2 separate regions of the Homo sapiens genome follow, and region 2 is linked to region 1. A link means that fine-mapping ties the variant in region 1 to the expression of a gene that starts in the linked region. Tissue or cell type: whole blood. Region 1 holds a variant in brackets; the other region holds the start of a gene. All regions are shown on one strand. Distances are between the middles of the regions.

The links. PIP is the estimated chance that this variant, and not a neighbour inherited with it, causes the effect.
Region 2: it holds the start of LINC01801, and the variant in region 1 is fine-mapped to the expression of LINC01801 in whole blood (TOPMed, PIP above 0.99).

Annotation. Positions count from the first base shown.
Region 1 is chr19:34,982,991-34,991,095 of GRCh38, reverse strand. No RefSeq gene overlaps it. Among named protein-coding and RNA genes, the nearest start is that of GRAMD1A, 13 kb to the left of the region's middle. The variant T/G (reference allele first, on the strand shown) is at 4,138.
Region 2 is chr19:34,828,356-34,836,460 of GRCh38, reverse strand. LINC01801 (long intergenic non-protein coding RNA 1801) reads left to right here and starts at 3,592. Exons shown (of 6, transcript NR_033982.1): 1 at 3,592-3,736; 2 at 3,925-4,131; 3 at 5,935-6,055; 4 at 7,208-7,297.

The DNA.
Region 1 (8,105 bases):
GCACTTTTCCACAAGAAGAGCTGAGGCACAGATAGGTCGTGTGCAGGCCTGAACATCTCCCACTCCCACGCAGGTACTCAACACAGTGTGGGCTTGCGTATTTCTGACACACAATAAGGAATAACGTGATATTTGCACTCCCCAGATACATGAAGATTTGTTGACCGTATCTGTCTGTTTCCAATGAACTATGACTTCTGGTTTTCCCCTAAATATGCCCACTTGGGTCTGGTTAAGTTTTGACGTCTTACCAAATCTCGCCCACATTCTCTGTAAGGTTTTGACCCAATCCCTTCCCATATTTTCCACTCGGGAAAGTCCCTAACCTTTGATGTCCTACCCTCAATCCTTTGATCACAGCCTGGGCGTTCTCCCTTTGGGCTAGATGGAGCCCCGTTTCTGTAAAACTGATGCACTCCTATGCACTAACGAGGTGTCCATGGCGCAAGCTGCACAGGTCCCTCCCCGCCACCCCAAGTGATGCTGGGGCCTCTGTTTCTCATGAACTTCTGCTTTGTCTTTTGGACATCTTGGATCAAAGTGCTGCTGTTCTCTCAGCAAAGGCACCCAGTCCAAGGCCATTTCCTGCCCTTAAACTTGCGGCTATCCGGGGAGAAAGCTTGGTGTATCCTGAATTGTCCAAGGAGCTAGCATCTTGACAATAACAGGACAGGAGGGATGAGAATGGATTTTTTTTTTTTTTTGCATTTTATGAACCAGAGCATTAAAGTTTGGGCCTCCCAAGGGTTCCTTTCCTCTGCCCAGCTTCCCCCCTAGTACCTCTTCCCTGTTTTGACTTCTCATTTTATATACTTTATTCCCACCCTGAACACCCTGAGGGGCCCAGAATGTATTCTAAGAAAGGATGCCCATTCTGCTTCTGAAAACCTAGAGCAACAAATATTCCTGACCATTTGAGTTCATTTTTGCAAGGAGTTGTCAGACCAAATATAACATTTTCTGTGGAAAATACCTATTTTGGAAGGATCTTTAACATCCAATGGAAATTCCATCCCATATTTCTTATTATTATTATTATTATTATTATTATTTTTGAGACAGAGTCTCGCTCTGTTGCCCAGGATGGAATGCAGTGGCGCAATCTCAGCTCACTGCAAGCTCCACCTCCTGGGTTCAAGAGATTCTCCTACGTCAGTCTCCCGAGTAGCTGGGATTACAGGCATGCGCCACCACGCCTGGCTAATTTTTGTATTTTTAGTAGAGATGGGGTTTCACCATGTTGGTCAGGCTGGTCTCGGACTCCTGACCTAAAGTGATCCACCCACCTTGGCCTCCCAAAGTGCTGGGATCACAGGCGTGAGCCACTGTGCCTGGCCGTCCATCCCATATTTCACCAAGACTGGGAACTCTTCAAGGAAACTCCAAGATAGTGGAGGCTCAGTTTCTGCAGTGATGGAGGGGGTGGGGGTGGCTGTGATAAACTGCAATGATTTTCTGGGCTCTCCCCTTTCCCACTGACATACACATAGTCAGCTGCTCTTCTAGAGAATGGGAATTAAGCCTCAGACACTTAGACACGGTGCCTCTAGTCAATGAGCGTACAGCCCTCATCTGGAAAGCGTGGAAAACCCCCACCTCAAGGAAATTCCCCACCTCCAGGGATTTTGAGGGAATCTAACAATATAAGTAAGAGCCTGAGCTGAAGCACACACCCAGTGCCCACTCAACTGTTTTAGCTATTGTTAAATGTTCCCGAGAGAGTCGATTTCAACAACCACATCATATGAGATGCTGGAATGGCTCCTGCCTATCGTCTCTGCACTTTGGGAGGCAGAGGCAGGAGGATTGCTTGAGCCCAGGAGTTTGAGACCAGCCTGGACAACATAACAAGACCTCATCTTCACCAAAAAAAATAGAAAATTTAACCAGGCTGATGGCACATGCCTGTGGACCCATCTACTTGGGAGGCTGAGGCAGGCAGATTGCTTGAGCCCATGAGGGCAAGGCTGCAGTAAGCCCTGATCACACCACTGCACTCCAACCTGTCTCCAGACTAAAAAAAAAAAAAGCTGGATACCAGATTCTGGGGGAATACAGCTATGAGAAATGTAAGAATTCTCAAATGCTTGTCACTTCCCCATGTTGGTTTTGTTTAGCTCTGGGTGTTTTCCCACACCACTTATTAAGAAAGTCGTTAAAGGCTGGGCACAGTGGCTCATGCCTGTAATCCCAGCACTTTGGGAGGCTAAGGCGGGTGGATCACTTGAGGCCAGGAGTTCAAGACCAGCCTGGCCCACATGGTGAAACCCCCTCTCTACTAAAAATACAAAAAATTAGCTGGGTGTGATGGCGTGCACCTGTAGTCCCAGCTACTCAGGAGGCTGAGGCAGGAGAATCCCTTGAACCCAGGAGATGGAGGCTGCAGTGAGCCAAGATCGCACCACTACACTTCCAGCCTGGGTGACAGAGCAAGACTGTCTGAAAAAAAAAAAAGAAAAAAAGAAAGAGAGAGAGAGAAAGAAAGAAAGAAGAAAGAGAAAGAAAGAAAGTTGTTAAAATGAGAAGTTGATGCATGCCTGTTTGCAAAGGGAGAAATTGGAGCAATTCCATTTTGCTCTGCAGTCAGGTTTGTGAGAAGAACCCTCCTATCAGGGCAGGTTTAGTTTAGTAAGGTTAATTTTTTTTCCTGTGTTTTTTTTTGTATTGGCATTATATATTTTTTTCTTAAAAAAATCCTTGAAAATTCAAGTATAGTTAATATTAACAGGAAACAGCCAGTCTTGCACCTGTGAACCTGCAAAAAGGCAGGGCAGGAGGAGGGGAACTGGCCACCCTAGCAGAGGACACTCAGGCTGCATAAGGAACAGATGCTTCTGGTGGGGACACAGGGCTCTCAGAGTGCCCACACTGTGACAGGTAAGATTTACAGACACACATCAACAAGGACATTGGGGTCACTCTCCACACTTCTGTACACTGCGCAAAACATCCATTCCCAGAGAAGGAAGAAAAAGTTAGCCAGGCTTGGGAAAGTCTGTACTCCAAACACTTTTTAAAATTTCCATTGGAGTGTTGTGCACATCACAAACAAATATAAATGAGTATTAATAAAGTGAACTTTTGTATTATTAATTTCCTTTGGCTGCCGTCACAAATGATCCCAAACTTTGTGGCTTGAAACAACAGAATTATTATCTCAGTGTTCTAGAGACCAGAAGGCCAAAGTCAAGGTGTCAGCCGCGCCATGTTCCCTCTGAAGGCTCTAATCCTTCCCTGCCTCTTCCAGCTTCTGTTGGCTCTAAACAGTCCTTAGCTTGGGGCTGCATAACCCTCATCTTTGCCTCTGTCTCCACATGGCCTTCTCCTACTCCCTGTGTCTCTTACAAGGACCCTTGTCATTGGATTTACAGCCCACTCAGATAATACAAGCTGATCTTATCTTGAGATCCTTAATTTAATTACATGTACAAGCTGTGTGCGGTGGCTCACACCCACAATCCCAGCACTTTGGGAAGCCGAGGTGGGCAGATCACCTGAGGTCAGGAATTGGAGACTAGCCTGACCAACATGGTGAAGGCTGGCCAACATGGTGAAATCCCATCTCTACAAAAAAAAAAAAAAAAAAAAATTAGCTGGGTGTGGTGGTGCATGCCTGTAATCCCAGCTACTTGGGAGGCTAAGGCAGGAGAATTGCTTGAACTCAGGAGGCAGAGGTTGCAGTGAGCCGAGATTGCACCACCACACTCCAGCCTGGGCAACAGAGTGAGACTCCATCTCAAAAAAAAAAAAAATTACATGTACAAAGACTCCTTTTCCAAATAAAGTCACTGTCACAGGTTCCGAGGGTTGGGATGTGGACATATCTTTTGGGGGGCTATTATACTACTTACTACAACACTCAAGTAAAAAGACCACAAATGTCCATTAAAGGTCCTGAATAAGAATGATCATACCAGCTTTATCCATAACAGCCAAAACCTTGAAACAACCCTAATGTCCATCAAAAAGAGAATGAATAAATAAATTGTGATATATTCATACAGTGGAATACTATATGGCAACGAAAATGAGCAAACTATTGCCGCAAGTATCAGCGTGAATGCATCTCCATTAATATAAAGTTCAAGAACAGGCGAAACCAATCCATGGTGATGGAGGTCAGAATAGTGCTTACCC[T/G]CAGGGGATAATGACTAGGAGGGCGCGAGGGATCTTCTGAAGTGTTGGAAGTATTCTATATTTTTTTTTATTCTTTTAGAGACAGGGTCTTGCTCTGTAGCCCAGGCTGGAATGAAGTGACACAATCATAACTCACTGTAACCCCAACCTCCCAGACTCAACTGATCTTCTCATTTCAGCCTCCCGAGTAGCTGGGACTGCAGGTATGTGCCACCACATATGGCTAATATTTTTACTTTTTATTTTTTGTGGAGATGGGGTCTCGCTATGTTGCCTAGGCTGGTCTCAAATACCTGGCCACACGGGATCCTCCTGCTTTGGTCTCCCAAAATGCTGGGATTACAGGTATGAGCCATTTGCTTCCAGCCAGTATTCTATATTTTCATCTGAGTGGTAGTGGTAGTCATATGAAAAATTAATTATACTATGCATTTAAGATTTATGCACTTTACTGAATGTATGTTATAAAATTTAACTTGTCATTAAAATTTTACGTATTTTAAACTCAATTACATGTACAATTTCATGTATAAAAACTCAATTAGTTTAAAATACATAAAAGTTGCAATATATCATCATTGTTAAAACTATTTTAACAGGCTTATTGAAGTATAATTGATATATGATACACTGCACATATTTAAATTATACAATTTTTATCTTTGATATTGACATTTGTATATATCCATGAAATCACCACCACAATCAAGCTAACCAACATCACCCACAAAAGTCTCTTCCTGCCCTTCTCCATATTCCCCATGCTCCCTACAACATTAAAATTATATTAAAATTTTCTAAAAAATGAAAATAAATAAATATCTGGTTGATCTTGCTAGTTGCAAAAAGAATCATAAGTAAAATTACTGCAGTATGCCTTCTTTCAGGAATTACACCAGACCAGCAAGGAGGATTCAGAAACATAAATGCACTCTGCACTTCTGGCATAACTAGGGGGTATCTGAAAGGTCAGAGGAGGAAGAGCTACCAACACAGGAAAAGTCAAGTGAGTCGAGGAGGAAGCCAAGAAGGAGTGCCCATGGTTCTGATCTTAGACTAAGCCTACAAGGCACAAGAGGCTCGTTGTGATGGGCAAACCAGCAGTCACCTGTTTGGAACACAAAGAGTGAGAGATACAGCCTGGCCGTTGGAACCTTCCTGGCACTTGCTGCCATTGATGTCTGGGGCCAGGAAAGCAGTGCTGGAGGAGGGATCAACACACAGTTGTCTGGACAGGATGCTGCCTGCTTGCCAGGAGGAGGTGGGGCTGAGCTGCTGCACTGTAAGTGGCTTTCCGGATGCTGTTCTTGGCCATCTGGGGCAAAGGAAGTTTAAGCAACTCACACATACACATATTCCTCTAAATTAGCAACGTTCCTGGAAACTGGAAATGCTTCCTGCTAGGCAGAAACAAAAGCTTCCCCCTACTGTGCACAAATGTCTTCAATTACTTGGCACAGGAAGAGTTCCCCCCAAGTCAAAGGTAGCTAAAAGAGAAATGCATAACCGGCAGATTTAGGGGTGGGAACCTGATGTCTGCAACTCACTTTAGACACATAAAAAAGTCATATAGAGCAAGTACAGTGAAATGTTAAGGGCATAGGTGGTATGTATACAGCTATTTGCTGCATAGTTCTTTCGACTTTTCTGTGTTTGGAAAGTTTCATTAAAAAGATAGAGAAGAAAGGGTATTCAAAGAAACTGAACAAAGTTATCAAAAGAAAAAGGATAAAAGCAACATTAAAAAAAATTCAGAGGCCAGGCACAGTGGCTCACACCTATAATCCCAGCACTTTGGGAGGCCAGGGCGGGTGGATCACTTGAGGTCAGGAGTTCGAGACTAGCCTGGCCAACATGTGAAACCGTCTCTACTAAAAATACAAAAATTAGCCAGATGTGGTGGTGCATGCCTGTAATCCCAGCTACTCAGAAGGCTGAAGAACAAGAAGGGCTTGAACCCCGGAGGTGGAGGTTGCAGTCAGCCAAGGTCATGCCACTGTACTCCAGCCAGGGTGACAGAGCAAGACTCTGTCTCAAAAAAAAAAAAAAATCAGATGAAGAAAATGCCATGCAGTGGCATGATCTCGGCTCACTGCAGCCTCCGCCTCCTGGGTTCAGGCGATTCTCCTGTCTCAGCCTCCTGAGTAGCTGGGACTACAGGCATGTGCCACCACACCTGGCTAATTTTTGTATTTTTAATAGAGACAGGGTTTCACCATGTTGGCCAGACTGGTCTCAAACTCCTGACCTCAGGTGATCCACCTACCTTGGTCTCCCAAAGTATTAGGATTACAGGAGTGAGCCACCACGCCCAGCCTCGATTCAGTTTTTAAAGAATAATTTAAAAAGCATACCTAGAAACCACAGAATACCAAAGAAAATGACATAATCTTAAAAGTGGCTGGAAATAAAGGATGGATTACATATATGAAAACAAAATTAGACTTTCTACTGATTTCTCAATAGCAAAAATGGGAACGAGAAGACAATGGAACAATAGCTTTGATGTGCTGGGAGAAAACACATGTCCATCTAGAACTGCAGGCCCAAGAATCATTCAAGGATGAAGATGAACTGAATACACTTTCAGAGAAAAACTGAAATATTTTGTATGAACATATCCCCCTAAAGGAAATTCTTAAAAAATTAGGTCAGAAGAAAGAAAAGCAATATCAGAGGGAAAATATGAGCTGTAAGATGGAATAACAAGCAATGAAAATGATAAATGTGTGGGTAAATCTAAACGGACAGTGATTGTTTTAGTCCATTTTTTGTTGGTATAACAGAATATACCACTATAAATTACAGACTGGGTAATTTATAGTGAACAGAAATTTATTTAGCTCATGGTTCTGGAGGCTGAAAAGTCCAATACCGAGTGGGTGGCATCTGGTTGGCTTCGGGGGAGGGGCTAGTGCTGCATCATAACATGATGGAAAAGCAGAAGAGAAGCAGGTGTGTGTCAAAGGGGCAAAACTTAAGGGGAACCTCACTTTATAACAGCCTGCCCTTGCAATAACCAATCCAGTCCCAAAAGAGTGAGAACTCACTGCCTCCAGAATTAACCCAGTCTCGAGAGAATGGCATCAGTCTCTCTTAATGACCAAATCACCTCTTAAAAGTCCCGTCACCCAACACCACCACACTGGGGACCAAAGTGGGAGGATCTCTTAAGACCAGGAGTTTGAGATCAGCCTGGGCAACATAGTGAAACCCTATCTCTATTAAAAAATTAACAGGGCATGGTGGTACAAGTGGTACAAGCCTGCAGTCCTAGCTACTTGGGAGGCTGAGGCAGGAGGATTGCTTGAGCCCCGGAGTTTGAGGCTGCAGTGGGCTATGATAGTGCCACTGCACTCCAGCCTGAGTGACAGAGCGAGAATTTGTCTCTTTTTTTTTTTTTTTTTTTGAGATGGAGTCTCTCTGTGACGCCCAGGCTGGAGTGCAGTGGCTCAATCTCGGCTCACTGCAAGCTCCGCCTCCCGGGTTCACGCCATTCTCCTGCCTCAGCCTTCCGAGTAGCTGGGACCACAGGTGCCCACCACCACGCCTGGCTAATTTTTTGTATTTTTAGTAGAGAAGGGGTTTCACCGCGTTAGCCAGGATGGTCTCGATCTCCTGACCTTGTGATCCGCCCGCCTCGGCCTCCCAAAGTGCTGGGATTACAGGCATGAGCCACCGTGCCCAGCCGCTGAGAATTTGTCTCTAAAAAACAATGACAAACTAAAAGGAAAACTTCTGGAAAGCAGAATAAAAGACAAAAGTGGATAATAAGAGACAATATAAGAAAATTAGAGGATAAATTCAGAAATTCCAAAAAAGAGAAAACAGAAACTCCAGTAGTGAAGAAAGTATTAAAGAAATGTCCCCATAACTGAAAGAAATTTGAAGAGCCTGCAGAGTGCTCCACAATTGTTAAAATATGGTAATAATATTTCAGAACATCAGTTCTAGAGGTTTCCAGAGAG
Region 2 (8,105 bases), 150 kb after region 1:
GAGAGGATTGACTGAACCTGGAGGTACAACTGGATCACAGCAGTGAGCAAATCAGGGCGTTGGGTCGAAATCAAAATACAGAGATAAATCTCTATAAATATAAACTGTTTTATTTGGGAAGTGAAAATTGCAATTCAGGGCACACAACTGGGCAGCCTTTTAGAAGAACAAATAGAAAGAGGTTTCGTTAAAAGAGCAAAGACAATTTATTTTGCAAAGACAACTCATTGGCACTAGTAAAGTTTTGGGGAGCTGGCAAGTTCTGATTGGTAAGTGATAGCAGTGGGTAAAAGTAATCATAGAGTCCGGCAGGTTGTTTCAGAAGCTACTACATAAAACCGTTTTTGGGTTACAGCAGGCAATTTCAGCAGCTAGGCTTGCAAAGAATTACATTCTTGGCGTGCCCTGAGTGTGTTTTCTCCTCCTGGCCTTCCAATTCTGTTTTAGTTGGGTATAACAAGAATGGCTCAATTTATATAATCAACTTTCACACTTGCCAGCCATAGGAAGCCAGGGCATCCTACCCATAAGTGACTCTCTCTCCAAGGGCTGAGCTGTTCTCTTCCTGTGCCGACAAACTGCTCCAGGGAGAGGGGATCTGGCTGATCCAACATGGGTCAAAGTCCCACAGTCCAGATATATGTGTCTCAGAAGGTGGGGGGTTCTCATGGTCCATGGACTTTCCTTCAGATAATGTTGGAATTGCTCCGAGAAGGGCTAGTGATTTTTACCCCTATGTTCACCATGCCTTTTCTGCACACAAGAGTGCTTGTGTCTTTGCTCTCTTCTTGCACTGCTCCTCCCGGCTGACCATCTTCCCATTCTCTGCCGTGCCCCTACCTTAACATTGTTTTCTAAATGAACCTTTTTCATGTTTAAAAACTGTTATAACAGTTAGAAAGAAAATCTGGCCTTCTCTGCCATTATTATGGCCAATTGCATCTACGTAGCAAAATCTGTTTATAAAACAATGATTTTAGAATGATATTCTTTCTACCTTTGCTTCGTTTTTTTCAAATCAAGTTTTGGAGGTAAAATTCAGCAATTTCAGCGGCTGCTGAGAAAAAAATTCAGAGTCAGGACCTGCCAATGAAGAGGGTCCCCAAAAAATACTCAGGTTTTCATGTAAAACGTCTGAAAGCCAGTATCCCAGAAATAAGGATAACAGGAGAGAGCCAGCCTTCAAAAAGAGTGAAGCATGGCTCTGACTTACATTAATCTCAGAATAAAGTGTGCTTTCCCATCCTAGCTGCCTTCTACATCCAAAGGTAAATCCCTTCAGAGGATTTATAGTAGCATCAATAAACATGAAATAAATCTACAAAAGACATGCAAATCGACAGGAGAATTCCAGAGCTAAATGTGAAAAGTTAAGCAATAAACCTCATAGTAGGCATCACTGAAAATTTCCATGATATTGGAAGTGATGCTGGGCAGGCAAGCCCAAATTGGGGCTTAGCTTGGGAGGGTTCTTTGCTTCACCCAGCAAAGGATTCAAGGGTGAGCTGGTGGTGGAAGAAGACAGCTCTATTGAAGAGGCAGTGTTACAGCTCTGTGACTGCTCCTGCAGAGCACGGTTACTCTATCGGCAGGGCGCAGAGAGCAGCAGCTCAGGGCAGTTCTGCAGTCATATTTACATCTACTTTTAATTGCATGCAGATTAAGGGGTGGTTTATGCTGAAATTTCTAGGAAAAGGGTAGTAACTTCTGGGTCATTGGGTCATTGCCATGGAAAGGAGCAGTAATTCCTGCATGTTGCCATGACAAATGTAAACTGACATAGCACACTGGTGGGTGTGTCTGATGGAAAGCTGCTTCCACCCTGACCCTGTTTTAGCTAGTCCTCAATTTGCTCCAGTGTCCAAGCCCCGGCTCTGGAGTCGAGTCCTGCGTCCTACCTCAGAAGTAGTCGAAAACATACACATGAATGTTCACAGCAGCATTATTTCTTTCTTTTTTTTTTTTAAAGAGAGATGGGGGTCTCACTATGTTGGCCAGGTTGGTCTTGAACTCTTGGTCTCAAGCAATCCTCCCTCCTCAGTCTCCCAAACTGCTAGGATTACAGGCATGAGCCACTACACCTAGCCACAGTAGCATTATTATTTCTAATAGCCAAACATCCATCAATAATAGAATGGGTAAATTATATTTGTTCAATGGAACATCACACAGCAATATAAAAGAATAAAGTGCTGCTAAAAGCAACAACATGGATGAATTTTATGAAGTGTTGAATGAAAAGACACAGCCACAAACAGGACACATGGTAGGGTTCCATTTATATAAAGTTTTTAAATAGGCAAAACTAATCTATAATGTTAAAAATTTGGGAGGGGCATAGTGACTAGGAATGAGCATGAGGTTGATTCTGAGGTGCCTGTGTTTTGCTTCTTGATCTAGATTACATAGGTTTGTTCATTCTGCAAAAATGTATTGAGGAATAGACAGATGATTTGTACACTTCTGTGTATGAATGTTATATTGTAAAGTTTCTTGAAGAATACCTGTTTACAAGAGTTAGAGAACATGGAAGCTCTTTCTCTGAGATAAAACATCTAAAAAGACAAAAATTAGCCGGGCGTGGTGGTGGGTGCCTGTAATCCCAGCTACTCGGGAGGCTGAGGCAGGAGAATGTCTTGAACCCGGGAGACAGAGGTTCTAGTGAACCAAGATCACACCACTGCACTCCAGCCTGGATGACAGAGGAAGACTCTGAGACTCCGTCACAAAAAAGAAAAAACAAACAAACAAACAAACAAAAAAGCCCTAAGTCATATCATGCCAGTCTCAGCAGTTTGAAACCCTCCATGGTTCCCATCTCTCAGTAAAAGGCAACGTTCTTATGACATCCTTCAAGGCCCCATGTAGTCTTTTGGTCCCTCTCCATCTCTGTCCTCCTGTCATCCACGTCTCCCACGTGCTGATTGGGTCTGGTAGGGTGACTGGGTGGCAAAGACCTCACAGAGGTGCCTTTCTGCTCAGGTGGCAAACAGGAGAGTCTATCTGGGCCCTGCAGGATGGATCCTTCCTGAGTCACTGAATATATTGGAGGTGCAGACAGCGCCAGAGAAAGGCATTGAGCCTGCCAGATCAGACACCGCCTCTTAGGGTCGACGGAACACCCAGGAGCAAAGACCAGAAATTGTGGGAGAAAGGCCTGGAAGGGGGCCGGGGAGAGGCACAGAGACAGCGAGGTGATGCAGGCTTGGTGGGAGCGGGTATGGTAGGCAATGGGGGACAGAGGGGCAGGGCACAGACAAAGCTTGCTGAAGATATGAAGAGCAATTGTGAGCCGGCGAATCCTTGGAGTAGAGGAGAAAATTGAGGTCTCCTGTTCAGCCCGATGCAGGTGAGATGCTGTTGGAACACGTGACAGAGAAAGGGTGTGTGAGCCCAGGGCTTGTGCACTAAGCGCACAGGAGCGAAGGGGGCGAGAAGAAAAAACGACGCCCAGCAAAGAGCGTCAAGGCCCAACCGCCTGCCCCCAACCGGTCTCTAGCGCCTCGTGACCTTCTGCACTCCGTTGCAGGCGTTTGGCACCAGATGGTCCCACGCGCTCTGTTCGACGGTTGGGGGCCGCGGACGCTGGTTGTCAGCAGCACTGGGTCAGCCGGTGAACGGGTGTGCAGCGTCCTCAGCGCCGCAGCAGTCAGCACCTGTGGGTGCTCTAGCTCTTTCCCTCGGGGTCACCGGAGGCAGAGCCTCCCCTACGCGGAGTAGAGGAGCAGCTCACATGGTGCGGGGGTGGGGATCGGGCTTCCTGGAAGGCTGGAAATGGGAGTTGGGATAAGGGGTTGGCGAGGGCGGGGCGGCACCGTCTACCGGGGTGACCGGTGTGCCCTGGCAGCCAGGGAGTCTGCTGCAGGGCAGGTATTAAGATTCGGAGAGACATAGGACAAAGAACCCTCGGCCTCTTCTTTTCAGGCAGCCGCCACAGAGGACACCAGATCATGCCAACACCCCCACAACTCCTGCCCGCCTGCAGGCAGCTCTGGGCTCAGGACACCGCCTGCAAGAACCTTTATAGCGCAGCTCTCCAAACCTTGGAGGCGAGGACATTCTATGTGCCCGCCCTGGAAAGGCCTGAACCTATAACATCTGGGCTGTGATGGTTTCTGAGGTGGACACCAGGTATTCTAAACTGCCCACATGCTTCACCCCAAAACTTCCCTTTCTAACAGGCAGTGTATTTTCACTTCTTTTAAAATATTTGGTAAAACAGCATTTAAGCCTTAGAAAGTTCCCCATCTCACCCCAGCCAGGGTTTGAACCCATGCTGTCTGATTCCACAGATCATGCATTTAACCACCAGACTTTGGTGTAGCCTCACCGTGTGTGCATAATGGATTACACTTGTTTATAATACTTGGGGTGCTTAGCACCATGTCAGAGCTGTAATGAGTACTTGCACTGTTAGGAGGTCTAACATGGTTCAATTTATAAGTGGACCATTGGCCACACCGGGTCTGGCTCAGTCTCCTGGGAGGATGTAGGCAGGGACCACCAATTATCAGCATATCTCCATGATGAATTTCTCCAGACAGCGTATCACTCTGTCACACAGGCTGGAGTCACAGCTCACTGCAACCTCGAACTCCTGGGCTCAAGAGATCCTCCCACCTCAGCTTCCCAAGTAGCTGAGACTGCAGGCATGCGCCACCACGCCTGATAATTTCTCTTCTAATTGAGCTTTGCAGAAAGCCACACAGCTGTCTGAGAGCTATTTTCTCCCAGGTATAGGGACAGGAAATGGCACCTCAGACTTCTGCAGATTCCACCCTGGCTTAAAAGCCCATGCCCCCAAGGACACCAATCTTTCTTACAATAACATAGACTATCTTTCAGGGTCCTGGCCAAGATGGACAACTTGCCAATATTAACTTTTCCAGGCCACAGGGATGATATATATCTCCATAGATTTAGGTCTTGAGTATTTTCTCCTAGAAATATTTCGCAGCAAGGGTCAGCACTGCAGCCTATGGGCCAACAAATTTAGCCTGTAGCCTACATGTAAGGCCAGTGAGTGAAGGATCCTATTAACAATTTTAAAGAGTTGCAGCAGAATACACAGAAACACAAAGAGTCTGTGTCACAGACAACGTGACCCACAAAGGCTATGCTACTTATTAGGCTGGTGCAAAAGTAATTGTGGTTTTTGCCATTACTTTCAAACCGCAATTACTTTTGTACCAACCTCATACTATCTGGCTTTTTAAGAGAAAATTTGCAACTGTTTTGCAGTTGTCTGTGCATAGATCTTCCACAGCTTTTGCTAATTTATTTCTAAGTATTCTATGGGGTTTGTAAATGCTATTGTAAATGGAATCTTTTAAATTTTAATTTTTGATAGTTCATTGGTAGAATATAGGTAATACATATAATACAGTCCAGTGTCGCTTTAACAATGGGAATACCTTCTGAGAAATGCATCATTAGGTGATTTTCGTCATTGTGCAAACATCATAGACTGTACCTACACAAACCTAGATGGTATAATTGACTATACTCCTAGGCCATATGGTATAGCCTGTAGCTACAAACCTGTACGGCATATACTGAATTTGAGGCAATTGTAACACAACGTTAAGTCTTTGTGTATCTAAATATATCTAAACACAGAAAAGAAACAGTAACAATGTCATATTATCTTATGGGAACACTGTCGTATATGCAGTTCATTGTTGACCAAAACCTTGTTATGAGGTGCATGACTGTGTATGTACATAAATGTATATATGCATACATATTGAGTTTGTATATTGAACCTCACTGAAATCGCTTTTGATTTCAGGTAGTTTCTTTGCAGATTCCATAGGATTTTCTACATACACAATAATGTTTCTAGGAATCATGTTTCTGTGAATAAAGCTAGTTTTCCTTCTGTTGTAATCTACATGCTTTTTATTTCTCTTTATTTCCTTCTGTATTTGCCAGGACCAACACTTGTCAGCATGGCACAATCAGGCATTTCTCTTCTAAGTAGGATGTGCAGCCAAAAACTCAGCTGTCTGTGAGCTGTCTTCTCCCAGGAACGAGGACATAAGATGTACATCAGGTAGATACAAGATCCATGCTAGCTTAAAAGCTTTATGCCCCAAGGGCACCAATATCACTTGCAATAATTCCATAGGCCAGCTGTCAGGGCCCTGGGTGAGATTGATAATTGACCAATATCAACTTCCCTAGCCCCTGAAAATGATGATGATGATGGGGTGTGTGTGTGTGTGTGTGTGTGTGTGTGTGTGTGTGTGTGTGTGTACTCACGTACTATATACATATATTGGCATATAGTAGTATATGGACAAAACAACTGCTTTTGATATATTTACTTTTGTATTGAAACCTTGCTCATTTTCTATTTACATTTTGTAGTTTCTTTGTAGATTCTTTAGTGTTTTTTTTTTTTTAGTCTTGCTGTATCCCCCCTAGGCTGGAGTACAGTGGTGCAATCTCAGCTCCCTGCATCCTCTGCCTCCTGGGTTCAAGCGATTCTCTTGCCTCAGCCTCCTGAGTAGCTGGGATTATAGGCATGTGCCACCATGCCCAGCTAATTTTTGTTTTTTTAGTAGAGACCAGGTTTCACCATATTGGCCAGGCTGGTCTTGAACTCCTGACCTCAGGTGATCTGCCCACCTCGGCCTGCCAAAGTGCTGTGATTACAAGTGTGAACCACTGTGCCCAGCCCTCTTTCAGATGTTCTACATAGACAAACGTTTTCTGTGCTTAAAGGCACTTTTCTTTCTTCTCTTTTAATCTCTATGCCTTTTATTAATTTTTCTTATCTTCTACATTTGCTGCAACATCCAGGAAACTATCAAATACAAGAAGAGACAATGGATATTCTTTCCCAGTTCCTAATCATAGGTTAAGAGTATTCAGTATGGTATTAACTGAAGATTTTTTGTAGATATGCTTTATCACAGAAATGAATTCTCTCGAATTCCTGCTTTACTTAGAATGTTTTTGGTAAGTGGTGTGAGACCCACAGCTATTGAGATCACCATAGGACATTTCTCTTTTATTCTCTTAATATGATGAATTACATTGATTGATTTTTAGGTGTTAAATGAATCTTTGCCTTCCTGGGGAAAAACTTACTTAGTCACAAAAGATCATCTTTTTATATTTGGTTTTCCTAAAGTGTTGCCAAAGACTTTTGTGTCTATGTTATGAGCGATATTAATCTGTAATTTTCTCTTCTTGTTAGGTTTTGATATTAGAGTAATACTGGCCTTATAGAATGAGTTACGAAAAGTTGCCCCTTTCTCCACTTTCTGAAAGAGTTTGTGTAACACAGGTAAAATATTGTTCTTACACATTTGATAGAATTCACCTGAAAAACCGTCTGGAACTGCATATTTTTTCTTAGAGGATGTTTATAATTCCCCATTACCCTTTTAATGTCTTTCAGATCTGACTCATGCCCTTCCCTTTTTATTCCTAATATTGGTAATTTGAGTTTTCTCTTTGTTATTTCTTCTTCAATCTTGATAGAGGTTTCTCCATTTTATTACACTTTATAATTTCTATATTATATATAGAAATGTCTATAAATAGAAATTAATAGAATTAATGTGTCTCTATCATTTCTATTTCCGTGTCTATTTTTATTATTTCTTCTTTTCCATTCATTTTATATTTAATTTATTCCTTGATTCTTCTACTCAGGGTAGAAACCTAAATCATTGTTTCTTAAAATGTTTCTGTTTTAAACATAAACGCTTAAAGCTGCCACACTTTAGCTGTCTATCACAAATTTTGATTTGCTGTGTTTTGCTTATTCAGTCCAAAATATTTTATATTTTTCCTTGTTATTTTTTAATATATTGATTATATAAAAGTGTGTCTTGCTTTCATTCTAAATATGAATATGAGTATTTTAAATATTTAACTATTTAAATTTAATATTTATTATAGTATTTATTTATTTAATATTTAATCTGTAAATTTTAGGATTTTGTAGATATCATATTGTAGATATCTACAATTTTGTAGATAGATCTACAAAAATTCTATTGTGATCAGAGAAAACATATTAATCTCAAAATTATTAAGATTTATTTTTTGGCCCAATCTTAATGAACATTCCATGTGCTCTTGAAAAG